Homo sapiens: one gene and its partners. The protein of the gene in region 3 purifies or fractionates together with the protein of the main gene of each other region. This does not show direct contact. Each region holds a gene or a part of one and is shown on either strand. Other genes may lie near its edges. The genes, in order: GTF2H2, XRCC4 and RNF135.

Region 1 (3,757 bases), on a different chromosome or scaffold from region 3:
TAGGATCTCATCACGCTACCCAGAATGGCACACAACTTAAATCTTATGAATTATTTATTACTGAAGTTTTCAATTTAATATTTTCAGACCAAGAGTAACTAAAACTGGAAAGTGAAACTGCAGATAAGGGGGGATTACTATAATTTAACCTCACAGTAATTCAGAGTCATAATAATCATGAACATTAATATTGCATACCATTTAATTAAAATGATAGCTTGTAGATTTTTAAGTTGTGGTGACCAGTTTTCACCTACACTAAATAGACCTTTTTATGCTTTCTGCAGCAATTTTATCAGTTAGTTATAGCTTTCCTGCTTATATTTTCATTGTTATCTTCTCAGCTCTCACTGGTAGACCCTGCTACTGTACTTACCTCTATTACATGTGTTGCCTCCTTCTCATCCACTTCAAAACTAGAAAAATATCTATTATATAAAGGTATAAGTCTGAGCCAGGGCGGACTATCCAGAGATAAAATATATAAGCTTTAGGGAGGCTGAGGTGGGCGGATCGCTTGAGGCCAGGAGTTCAAGACCAGCCTGGCTAACATGGTGAAACCCCATCTGTACTAAAAATACAAAAATTGGCTGGGCATGGTGGCACACACCTGTAATCCCAGCACTAGGGAGGCTGAGGCACAAGAATCACTTGAACCCAGAGGTGGAGGTTGTAGTGAGCTGAGATCACGCCACTGCATGCCAGCCTGGGTGACAGAGCAAGACTCTGTCTCGAAAAAAAATATATATATACGTGTGTGTGTGTGTGTGTGTGTGTGTGTGTGTGTGTGTGTATATATATAATAGATATATAAGCTTTAACTTATATATGTAAGTTTAACATATATATAAGCTTTATATATATATGTATAATAAATTATATATATAATATGTATATAAAGCTTATATATATATATAAGCTTTAACTATACCAAGTATTTCCTTTGGGGTCTTAGCTCTATTCCATATAGCTGAACTTGCCATATCTATTAATTTACAGATATATGACATTGGTGCAAAAGGAACTGTGGTTTTGGCCATTACTTTCAAAATAAATTAATAAATGTTAATAAAGGTACAACCAACTTACAATTATTATACTATATTAAATCTCATTTTAATAAAATATTTTTTCATCAACATATTTTTGTACTATTGATACTGCCGACAGTTTTAAATTATATTTTTATAAAACCTTTAACAATATCTTACTAAAATGTAAAATAAAGATTACTAACCAACACCACACTAAACATCATAAATAACACTACATAATTCTTGTACTTAACAATTTTGTTATAGCTGGGTTTATGGGCCCCATATTAACACATCACTTCAGCTTAACTCATTTAAAAAACTTCTAATTCAATTATACATAATGTATAATACTAACTTTAGAGTCTGCATAGCTATGCTTAGGGAATTATAAAGAGATGGCTCTCCATGGCAGGTCATATCCACAGCTTTCTTCAAAGACGTTATATGTTTTCTTGGGTTTCCTAAAATAGAAATAAGATCTTTAAATAAAATCCTATATATTAAAAAAGTTTATGTTTCTCTCAAAATTTACATATCTATGATGTTAAAGAACAGAATCCTTTCAATGTATATTTCTGTTGGAATTTTATCTGCAATATTTTGTAAACACTCTCACTTCATACTGAAAAACAGAATACAAATAATCTCCTTATAGACTAGCATACATATTTTAAAATAATGCTAACCTAGAGTGCATTTTTTTACTCTTAATATTTCCATATTTCATCATTTTTAAGACCAATACATTTTCACATTTAACATCTCTGAAATCAGCATGTGTTTAATAATCACTGGTAGCCAGCAGCACTTGTAACATAGTCTTTGCCTGTTCATATGTGAACCTACAAATAGGTCTTCATATGTTGTTGCTTCAATTGCATTATGTACATTGTCCTCTTCATGGTGAGTTTAACTGCCATTTAAAATGTTTTTAAGGCCAGGCGCGGTGGCTCACGCCTGTAATCCCAGCACTCTGGGAGACCACGGCAGGCAGATAACCTGAGGTCAGGAGTTTAAGACACACCTGGTCAACATGGTGTAAATCCCATCTGTAGTAAAAATGCAAAAATTAGCTGGGTATGGTGGCATACACCTGTAATCCCAGCCACTAGGGAGGCTGAGGCACAAGAATCACTTAAACCCAGAAGGTGGAGGTTGCAGTGAGCTGAGATTGCACCACTGCACTCCAGCCTGGGCAACAACAGCGAAACTCCATCTCAAAAAACAAACAATAAAATGTTTTTAGAAATGTTGTTAATACAAAAGGCTATATTTTTATGTAGAAAGGTGTGGAACACAGCAGTGAGGCATAAATTTATTATAATGAATCAAATATTGATGGAAGAATGCATGCAATTCCGTATTTTTCTTGAGGGAAGAAATCAAGAACTTTACAAGACCTAAGAAACGAATATTCCCACAAACAGACGAAGCTGTGTTATCTTACCAAATAGCATCTGAAAAGATTGTCTATCTTATGCTAAGCAATTCAAATGAAGGGGGGAGAAGCTGCCAAATCCTTTTTTTTCTTTTTAATATAATATTTTTTTATATTATTTATATTTAGATTATATATATATCTGTTGCCAGGCTGGAGTGCAATGGGGCAATTTTGGCTCAATGCAACTTCCACCTCCCAGGCTCAAACCATCCTCCCACCTCAACCTCCCAAGTAGCTGGGACTACAAGTGCCCAGCACCACACTTGGCTAAATTTTTTTGTATATTTTTGGTAGAGACAGGGTTTCACCATGTTGTCCAGGCTAGTCCTGAACTCCTGGATTCAAGCAATCCTCCCGCCTCAGCCTCTCAAAGTGCTGGGAGTACAGGTGTAAGTCACCACGCCTGGCCCCCAAATTTGAGATGTCTGTACATGTCAAATTACCAAGAAGCTAGTATAGCCAACTCATATATCATTTGATACTGTGTCAAAGTTTAACTACTAGGACTTTTCCTTCTTAATGGCTTATAAAAGTATCTTGTAATTGATGGAATCTGAGTTTCAATGAAATATAGTATTCCGTAAACATTTTCCATTTCAGCACTGTCTTCGTATCAATCAATAACCTAAGTATCATTAAATTGATTTTGTCATAAAATATAATCCATCAAAGCATACTATTAAACATTTAATTTTTAATCTGTCACTATTATACATAATGTTACAAAGAGTATCTTTGTAGAGTGATCATTCTCCTTCCATAACATTCCCTAAATATAATTTCAGGAACAATTTTTATGCTTTTCTAAAAAATATTGAACTAATTTGTAAGACTATCAGCACTATAAATAACAGTTTCTCTGTGGTTCCACAAGCAACATATTGCTTTGGAAACTTAATTTTGCTCATTTAAAATATATTAAAAAATAAAATGTTATGTAATTGGGTGGAGTTTTTTTGGATTACTAGTTTCCCTGATTTAATTTCTGGGTTTCTTCTGTGTGAATCATGTCTTCTTTGTCTATTCATCAACTTGGAGCTCCCTTGAGTTTTTACTCATCTGAGTAAGTTTTAAAATATTAACCATTTGTAATATTTAATATTTACTGCAAGTATTTTAGATTCATAAATTTTAGAGATGAAAAGTACCTCGCTAAGCAGTCCAAATCCCTCACTTCATAAGTGAGAAAATTAATCTAAACAAGTGAAATGACTTGCCCAAAGACATATGCCTGCTTAACTGCAGGACCAGCAGCACCCAAACCTAGATCTCCTGGCTC
Region 2 (3,757 bases), on a different chromosome or scaffold from region 3:
AGAGCGAGACTCCATCTCAAAAAAAAAAAAAAAAATTCCAGAAATAATGCATACATTTTAAATAGCATGCCTTTCTGAGTTGTGATGAAATCTTATTCCATCCTATCCCATTCAGCCCGGGGCCATGAATCATCTCCTTGTTTAGCGTATCCCTGCTGTATAAGCTTCCTGCCTTTTAGTTGCTTGGTTATCAGATTGATGGAGGTGGTATCACAGTGCGTGTGTTCTAGGAATACTTATTTTACTTAATTATTGCTTCAAAGCACAAGAGTAACGACGCTGGCAATTTGGTTATGCCAAAGAGTAGCTGTAAAGTGCCTCTTTTAAGCAAAAAAAGGAAAGTTCTCCACTTAATAAGGAAGAAAAGAAATCCTATGTTGATGTTGTTAAGAACTATGGTAAGAACAAATCTATCTGTAAAATTGTGAATAAGCAAAAAGAAATTTATGCTAGTTTTACTGTCACACCTCAAACTGCCAAACTTATAGCCATAGTGCATTATAAAAGCTTAGTTAAGATAAAAAAGGAATTAAATTTGTGGTTAGAAAATGTGAACAGAAGCATGCTCAGATTGAAGGCAGTTGGATTCAGCCTCCTCACGGGGCCTTGGGATATACACCCTTGGATAAGGAGAGGACTGCTATAAAAGGTTTTAGTATTAAGTTGGTATTGCATTTGTATCACCAGACCACTTTCTCCCCATTTTCTCTTTTTACTTTGTTGCTAGTGTTAATGATAGGGTTGATTTACATTACCTTTTACATTACCTACCTTTTTTCATTCACTGTTATTCACATATATTGAAAGACAATTGTTCTGCTTTTTTCCTCTTATCCTCAGCTAGCCTCCCTAACCTCAGGTAGAGGTTTTTCATGTTCCAGTGTTTGTCCTTTTTTTCTCCCCCCTTGTTTTTATTCCCTTCCCACATGGCTTTTCAATTCAGACTGAAATGTACTTGAGGACCAAAGTTAATACAGTTTTATTCTGTTAGGGATTTTTGTTAAATAAGTAGAGTTTCAGCTGCCCTTGTCACACACAAAAAATAAGATAGATGATAGGTGTTAATCTCCTTGACTAAAATAACCATTTTACTATCTGTGTGTATCCTATAATGTCAACTTGTAAACCTCAAATATACACATTAACATTTTTTAAAAAAAGAAGTTTCACCAAAAAAGACACTTCTATTTAATGTATGTCTTATTTCTTTTACCTTAAGAAATGTTTCTCTTAACCTTTCTCCATTTTCAACCCCATTTGTTTGCTCTTCTCTGCAACAAAAATCCTCTAAAGAGTTTTCTATGCTCCATGTTCCAATTCCTCTTTTTCTACCTCTGCATCTTCATTGGTATATTTAAAAGATATCTTGAACTCAGATGTCCCAGACCGAACTCCTTTCCTCCCAAACCTTTCCCATTCTTTCTCATCTGAATTGATGGCAACTTTATACAGCCAGTTGCTCAGTTAAATCTTTGGAGTCATCCTTGACTCCTTCCTTTCTCTTGTATTCCAACAAATCTGTTGGCTTTTTCTATGAAATATATCTAGAATTCAACAGTTTTCTACTATTTCTGCTATTAGTATACTGATCATCTCTTGCTCAGATTTTTGTTATTACCCACTATCATTTCTTGCCTGGATTATAGTAATTGTGTTCTGTTCTCTCTGCTTTTTTCAGTCCTTGCCTCCCTACAGTCTATTCTCATATGTCAGCCAGAGTGATACTTTTAAAATATAAATAAAAAATTGTGTATTTACATGTAAGATTCTAAATGCAATATGTTATGCTAGATTGGATCCTGAAACAGAAAGAGGTTATTAATGGAAAAACTGGTGAAATCCAAATAAAGTCTATGGTTTAGTTGATAGAAATGTATCAGTGTTGGTTTCCTGGTTTTGATAAATGCACCGTGGTAGTATAAGATGTTAATATTAGAAGAAATTGGGTGAGGGGTATATGAGAACTTTCTATTATCTTTGTAACCCTTCTGTAAATTCAGAATTATTTCAAAATAATATACAGAAGAATAAAACATTACTTTTTTGCTTAAAAACCTTTCGTGAATCATTTGATTCATAGTAGAAGCTAACAGCCTTACGTTGGCCTACAATAGTCTACATCAGTCTTGTCCAACTTACAGCTCACAGGCTGCCTGTGGCCTATGATGGCTTTGAATGCGGCCCACCACAAATTTGTAAACTTTCTTAAAACATTATGAGATTTTTTTTTTTTTGAGCCCTTTAGGTATCATTAGTGTTAGTGTATTTTATGTGTGGCCCAAGACAATTCTTCCTCCAGTGTGGCCTAAGGAAGTCAAAAGATTGGACACCTCTGCTCTACATGATCTGGTCTCCCATTACCTCTCTGACTACATGTCTTTGTATTCTCTCTCCCTTTGTTCCAGCCATACTTACCACCCTGTTTCTTAAGTACACTAGGCCTACTTCTACCACAGGGCCTTTGCACTGACTGCTGCTTCTTTCTAGAATGCTTTTGGATCCATACAGCTATTCCTTCATAGCTTTTACATGTTGTTCAAATGTCACCTTTGCAGTAAAGCATATCCCAACCTCCCTATTTAAATTGAAGCTTTGCAACTTCCATAGCCCCTACCCCTATCTCCTCCACCCTGTTTTATCTCCTCTTTTTACTTCAGCGCTTATCATTATTCTATATATGTATTACATATTTGTTACATGTATTTTTAATTGTGTTCCCCTATTAAAATGTAAAATCCATGAAGGCAGGCATTTTTATCTGTTTTGTTGTCTTATGCCACATTCTAAAGCATTTGTCTGAGGCATAGAAGTACTCAGTAGGTTTTGTTTGAATGAATGACTGACTTGATTGGGTGTTTGAATCTGTAATTTTTTTTTTTTTTTTTTTGAGATGGAGTCTTGCTCCGTTTCCCAGGCTGGAGTGCAGTGGCACAATCTCTACTCACTACAACCTCTGCCTCCTGGGTTCCAGCAATTCTCTCTTCTCAGCCTCCTGAGTAGCTGGGATTACAGGTGCATGCCACCATGCCCAGCAAATTTTTTGTATTTTTAGTACAGACGGGGTTTCACCATGTTGGCCAGACTGGTCTCGAACTCCTGACCTCGTGATCCACCCGCCTCAGCCTCCCAAAGTGCTGGGATTACAGGCATGAAGGTGCTGGGATTACAGGCATGAGCCACCGCATTTGACCATGAACCTGTAATTTTTGATTTGCAGTCTGAAACACTGAATTATTTATCACTTCCATGTATCATGCTATTTCTTGCCTCCAAGTTTTTACTCATGCAGACTCTTCTATTTGGAATGCCCTTCCTTATCTTTCTTCCTCTACCCCTAAGTTGTTTTCACCTGACCATTTCTCTTTAAAGATTCGTATAATATTAGATGTAACTCAAGGAAGCCTTCCCTAAAATGTCAGGCCAGGGTAAGTGCTGCTTTTCAGAGGAGCTCCCTTCCTACCTCTGCATTTTACAAACTTATATTATAATTCTGTTTGGGTGTCTCTATTTCAGTAGAGAGTTGCGAATGTGTCTTACTGATCTTTGGGATATCAAATCCTGGTACATAGGAAGTAATCAGTGAATGTTTTAATGCATTAATGGCATGATCAAGGACACTCAGCTATGAAGCATAGTTTTGATTCCAACCTGGGTCTTTTGAGTGTAAAATCAATGGCTTATTTGCTATACCTTGTTTCTTAGGAAAAAGATGGCTGTCTTTAAAATAATTGAAAGGTACTGTATCCTTTTGATACAA
Region 3 (3,757 bases):
AGCCTACCTTGCCCAGGATGCTCAGTTCGTTGTCTGGTCCAGATTCTGATAGGGGCCTCTGATTCTGCAGGCTTCTGACAATGTCTACAAGATGTTCCACCAGCTCTGTCAGCTCCTGAGCAACTTCTGTGATGCTCTTCTCTACTGCCACCTTCAAAATAGCAAAGTTCAGGTCCTGGGTTCTATAAAACTGGACCCAGGAACCACCACTAGACAGAGGGAATCATAAATACTGTGGTAATGGCATAAAAACAGACATACAGACCGATGGAATACAATAGAGTACCCAGAAATAAACTCTCACATATATAGTTAAATGATTTTTGACGAAGGTGCCAAGACCATTCAATGGAGAAAGGACAGTTTTTTCAACAAATTGTACTGTGAAAACTGGATATCTATATGCAAAAGAATATGGCTGGACCCTTACCTAACATCATATACAAAAACTAACTCAAAATGGATCAAAGACCTAAATGTAAGACCTAAAATAATACAGCTGTTAGAAGAAAACATAGGGCAAAATTTATGACATTGGATTTGGCAATGATTTATTGTATATGTCACTAAAAGCACAGGCAACAAAAGAAAAAAGGAGACAAATTGGACTACATGAAATGTTTAAACATTTGTGCATCAAAAGACACGAACAATAGAGTAAAAAGGCAATCCACAAAAATGGAAGAAAATATTTGCAAGTCATACATCTGATAAGGCATTAATACTGAGAATATACAGAGAATTTCTAAAACTCAACAATAAAAACATATCACTGCCGCTTGTTTGGTTGGTAAAACAAACAAGCAAAAACCCACAAACAACTGAATTTTGAAATGGGCAAAGAACTTGAATAGCTATTTCTCCAAAGAAGATATACAAATCACCAATAAGCACATGAATAGACACTCAAGATCACTAATCACTAGGGAAATGCAAATCAAAACATACAGTGAGATACCACCTCACACTCATTAGGTTGGCTACTATCAAAAAAAAAAAAACCAAAATAACAAATGTTGATGGTGTGGGAAGATTGGAACCCTCTGCACTGTTGGTGGGAATGATATAGCCACTATGGAAGACAGAATGGTGGCTGCTCAAAATATTAAAAATAGGCCAGGCGCAATAGCTCATGGCTGTAATCCCAGCACTTTGGGAGGCCGAGGCGGGTGGATCACCTGAGGTCAAGAGTTCGAGATCATCCTGGCCAACCTGGTGAAACCCCATCTCTACTAAAAATACAAAAATTCACCAGGTGTGGTTGCAGGCACCTATAATCCCAGCTACTTGGGAGGCTGAAGCAAGAAAATCTCTTGAACCCAGGAGATGGAGGTTGCAGTGAGCCAAGATCATGCCACTGCATTCAAGCCTGGGCGACAGGGCCAGACTCCATCTCAAAAAAAAAAAAAAAAAATATATATATATATATATATATATATATATATATGTACATATATGTAATTAGAATTACCATATGATTTAGCAATTCCACTTCCGGATATATAAGAATTGAAAACAGGATCTCAAAGAGATTCATAAACTCATGCCCATAGCAGTATTATTCCCACTAGCTAAAACATGGAAGCAACCCAAGTATCTGCAGACAAATGAATGAATAAGCAAAAAGTGGCATATACATACAATAGAATACTACTCAGCCTTAAAAAGGAAGGGAACTCTGACACATGCTACAACATAAATAACCCTTGAAGACATTATGCTAAGTGAAATAAGCCAGTCACAAAAAGACAGATACTGTATGATTCAACTTATATGAGGTATTTAGAGTAGTCAAAATCAGAGACAGAAATTAGAATGATGGTTGCCAGAGGCTGGGGGAAGAGGAAATGGAGAATTTTAATGTCCTCCTAGAATTCCACTTTTGCGAGTTGAAAAGAGTTATGGTACCCTGAAGAACCAGTCATGTTAATTTAAAATTTTTTAAAGTTATGGAAATGATGGTAGTGATGGTTTCAAAACATTGTGAATGTATTTCATATCACCAAACTGTATACTTAAAAATGGTTTAGGGCCAGAGAGAAGTGGGGGAAAGCCAGAAGACTTAAGGGTGGAGAGGGCAGAGCAAGATAGCCAAATAGAAGGCTCCATTGATCATCCCTCCCACAAGAACACCAAATTTAACAACTACACAAAAAAGCACCTTCATAAGAACCAAAAATCAGGGGTACTTACAGTACCTGGTTTTAACTTTATATTACTGAAACAGGCACTGAAGAGGGTAGGAGAAACAGTCTTGAATTGCCAATGCAACCCATATCCCATGTGTCAGGGGCCACATGCACAGAGAATCTGTGCACTCAGGAAAGGGAGAGCATGGTGATAAAGAGAATAGAAAGACTTTGCCTTGTCGCTTCACAAAGCAAAACTGGGCTGAATTCAGCTGACGCCTACCCACAGAGGGAGCATTTAGATCAGTCCTAGCCAGAGAGGAATCAAATCACCCACCCCAGTTATTGGAACCTGAGTTCTGGCAAGCCTCTCCACTGTGGGCTGAAGTGCTCTGGGGCTCTAAATAAACTTGAAAGGCAGTCTAGGCCACAAGGACTGCAACTCCTAGGCAAGTCCTAGTGCTGAGATGGGTCTCTGGACCGGCCCCGAGCCTGGGTGAATGTGCCACCATGAAGGGAAGGACACAAGCCTGGCTGGCTTTGCCATCTGCTGATTATAGAGCCCTAGGTCCTTGAGTCAATATAGGTGGTAGCCAGATAGTGGTTAACAAGGGGCTTGGGTAAGGCACAGTGCTGTGTTGGCTTTAGGTCTGACCCTGTGCAGTTCTAGTGGTCATGGCCACAAGGTGCTTCTGTCACCCCACCTCCAGCTCCAGGCAGCTCAGCACACAGACAGACTGTTTTGGAGAACGTATGAGAAGAGAACAAGAATCTCTGCCTGGTAATCCAGATAATTCTTCTGGATCTTATACAAGACCACCAAGGTGGTACCTCTAGTAGTCTGCAAGAGTCACAGCTTTACTGGGCTTGGGGTGCCCCCTAATGCAGATACGGCTTAGATCACAACGCCCAAGTCCTTTCAAATTCCTGGAAAGCCTTCCCAAGAAGGACAGGTACAAACAAGCCCAGACTGTGAAGACTACAATAAATAACTAACTCTTCAATGCCCAGGCACTGACAAACATCCACGAGCATCAAGACCATTCAGGAAAACATGACCCCACCAAACTAACTAAATAAGTCACCAAGAGCCAATTCAGGAGAAACAGAAATATGTGACCTTTCAGACAGAGAATTCAAAATAGCTGATTTAAGAAAACTCGGAGACATTCAAGATAACAGAGAAGGAATTCAGAATTCTATCAGGTAAATTTAACAAAATGATTGAAATAATTAAAAATCGGTTAAGAGTCATCACCACGCTCTCCCTCTCCCTCTCCCTCTCCCTCCACGGTCTCCCTCTGATGCTGAGCCAAAGCTGGACGGTACTGCTGCCATCTCGGCTCACTGCAACCTCCCTGCCTGATTCTCCTGCCTCAGCCTGTCGAGTGCCTGCGATTGCAGGCGCGCGCCGCCACGCCTGACTGGTTTTCGTTTTTTTTTGGTGGAGACGGGGTTTCGCTGTGTTGGCCGGGCTGGTCTCCAGCTCCTAACCGCGAGTGATCCGCCAGCCTCGGCCTCCCGAGGTGCCGGGATTGCAGATGGAGTCTCGTTCACTCAGTGCTCAATGGTGCCCAGGCTGGAGTGCAGTGGCGTGATCTCGGCTCGCTACAACCACCTCCCAGCCG

What was found.
Region 1: the proteins of RNF135 (region 3) and GTF2H2 purify together in Homo sapiens (affinity purification with mass spectrometry; 2 studies listed by BioGRID and IntAct, with this or other methods). This does not show direct contact.
Region 2: the proteins of RNF135 (region 3) and XRCC4 purify together in Homo sapiens (affinity purification with mass spectrometry; 2 studies listed by BioGRID and IntAct, with this or other methods). This does not show direct contact.

Annotation. Positions count from the first base shown.
Region 1 is NC_000005.10:71,053,960-71,057,716, forward strand, and holds part of GTF2H2 (general transcription factor IIH subunit 2), read right to left. Parts: intron 1,499-3,757; coding exon 1,393-1,498; intron 1-1,392. UniProt on the Homo sapiens protein: Component of the general transcription and DNA repair factor IIH (TFIIH) core complex, which is involved in general and transcription-coupled nucleotide excision repair (NER) of damaged DNA and, when complexed to CAK, in RNA transcription by RNA polymerase II.
Region 2 is NC_000005.10:83,080,508-83,084,264, forward strand, and holds part of XRCC4 (DNA repair protein XRCC4), read left to right. Parts: intron 1-3,757.
Region 3 is NC_000017.11:30,981,011-30,984,767, reverse strand, and holds part of RNF135 (E3 ubiquitin-protein ligase RNF135), read right to left. Parts: intron 152-3,757; coding exon 8-151; intron 1-7.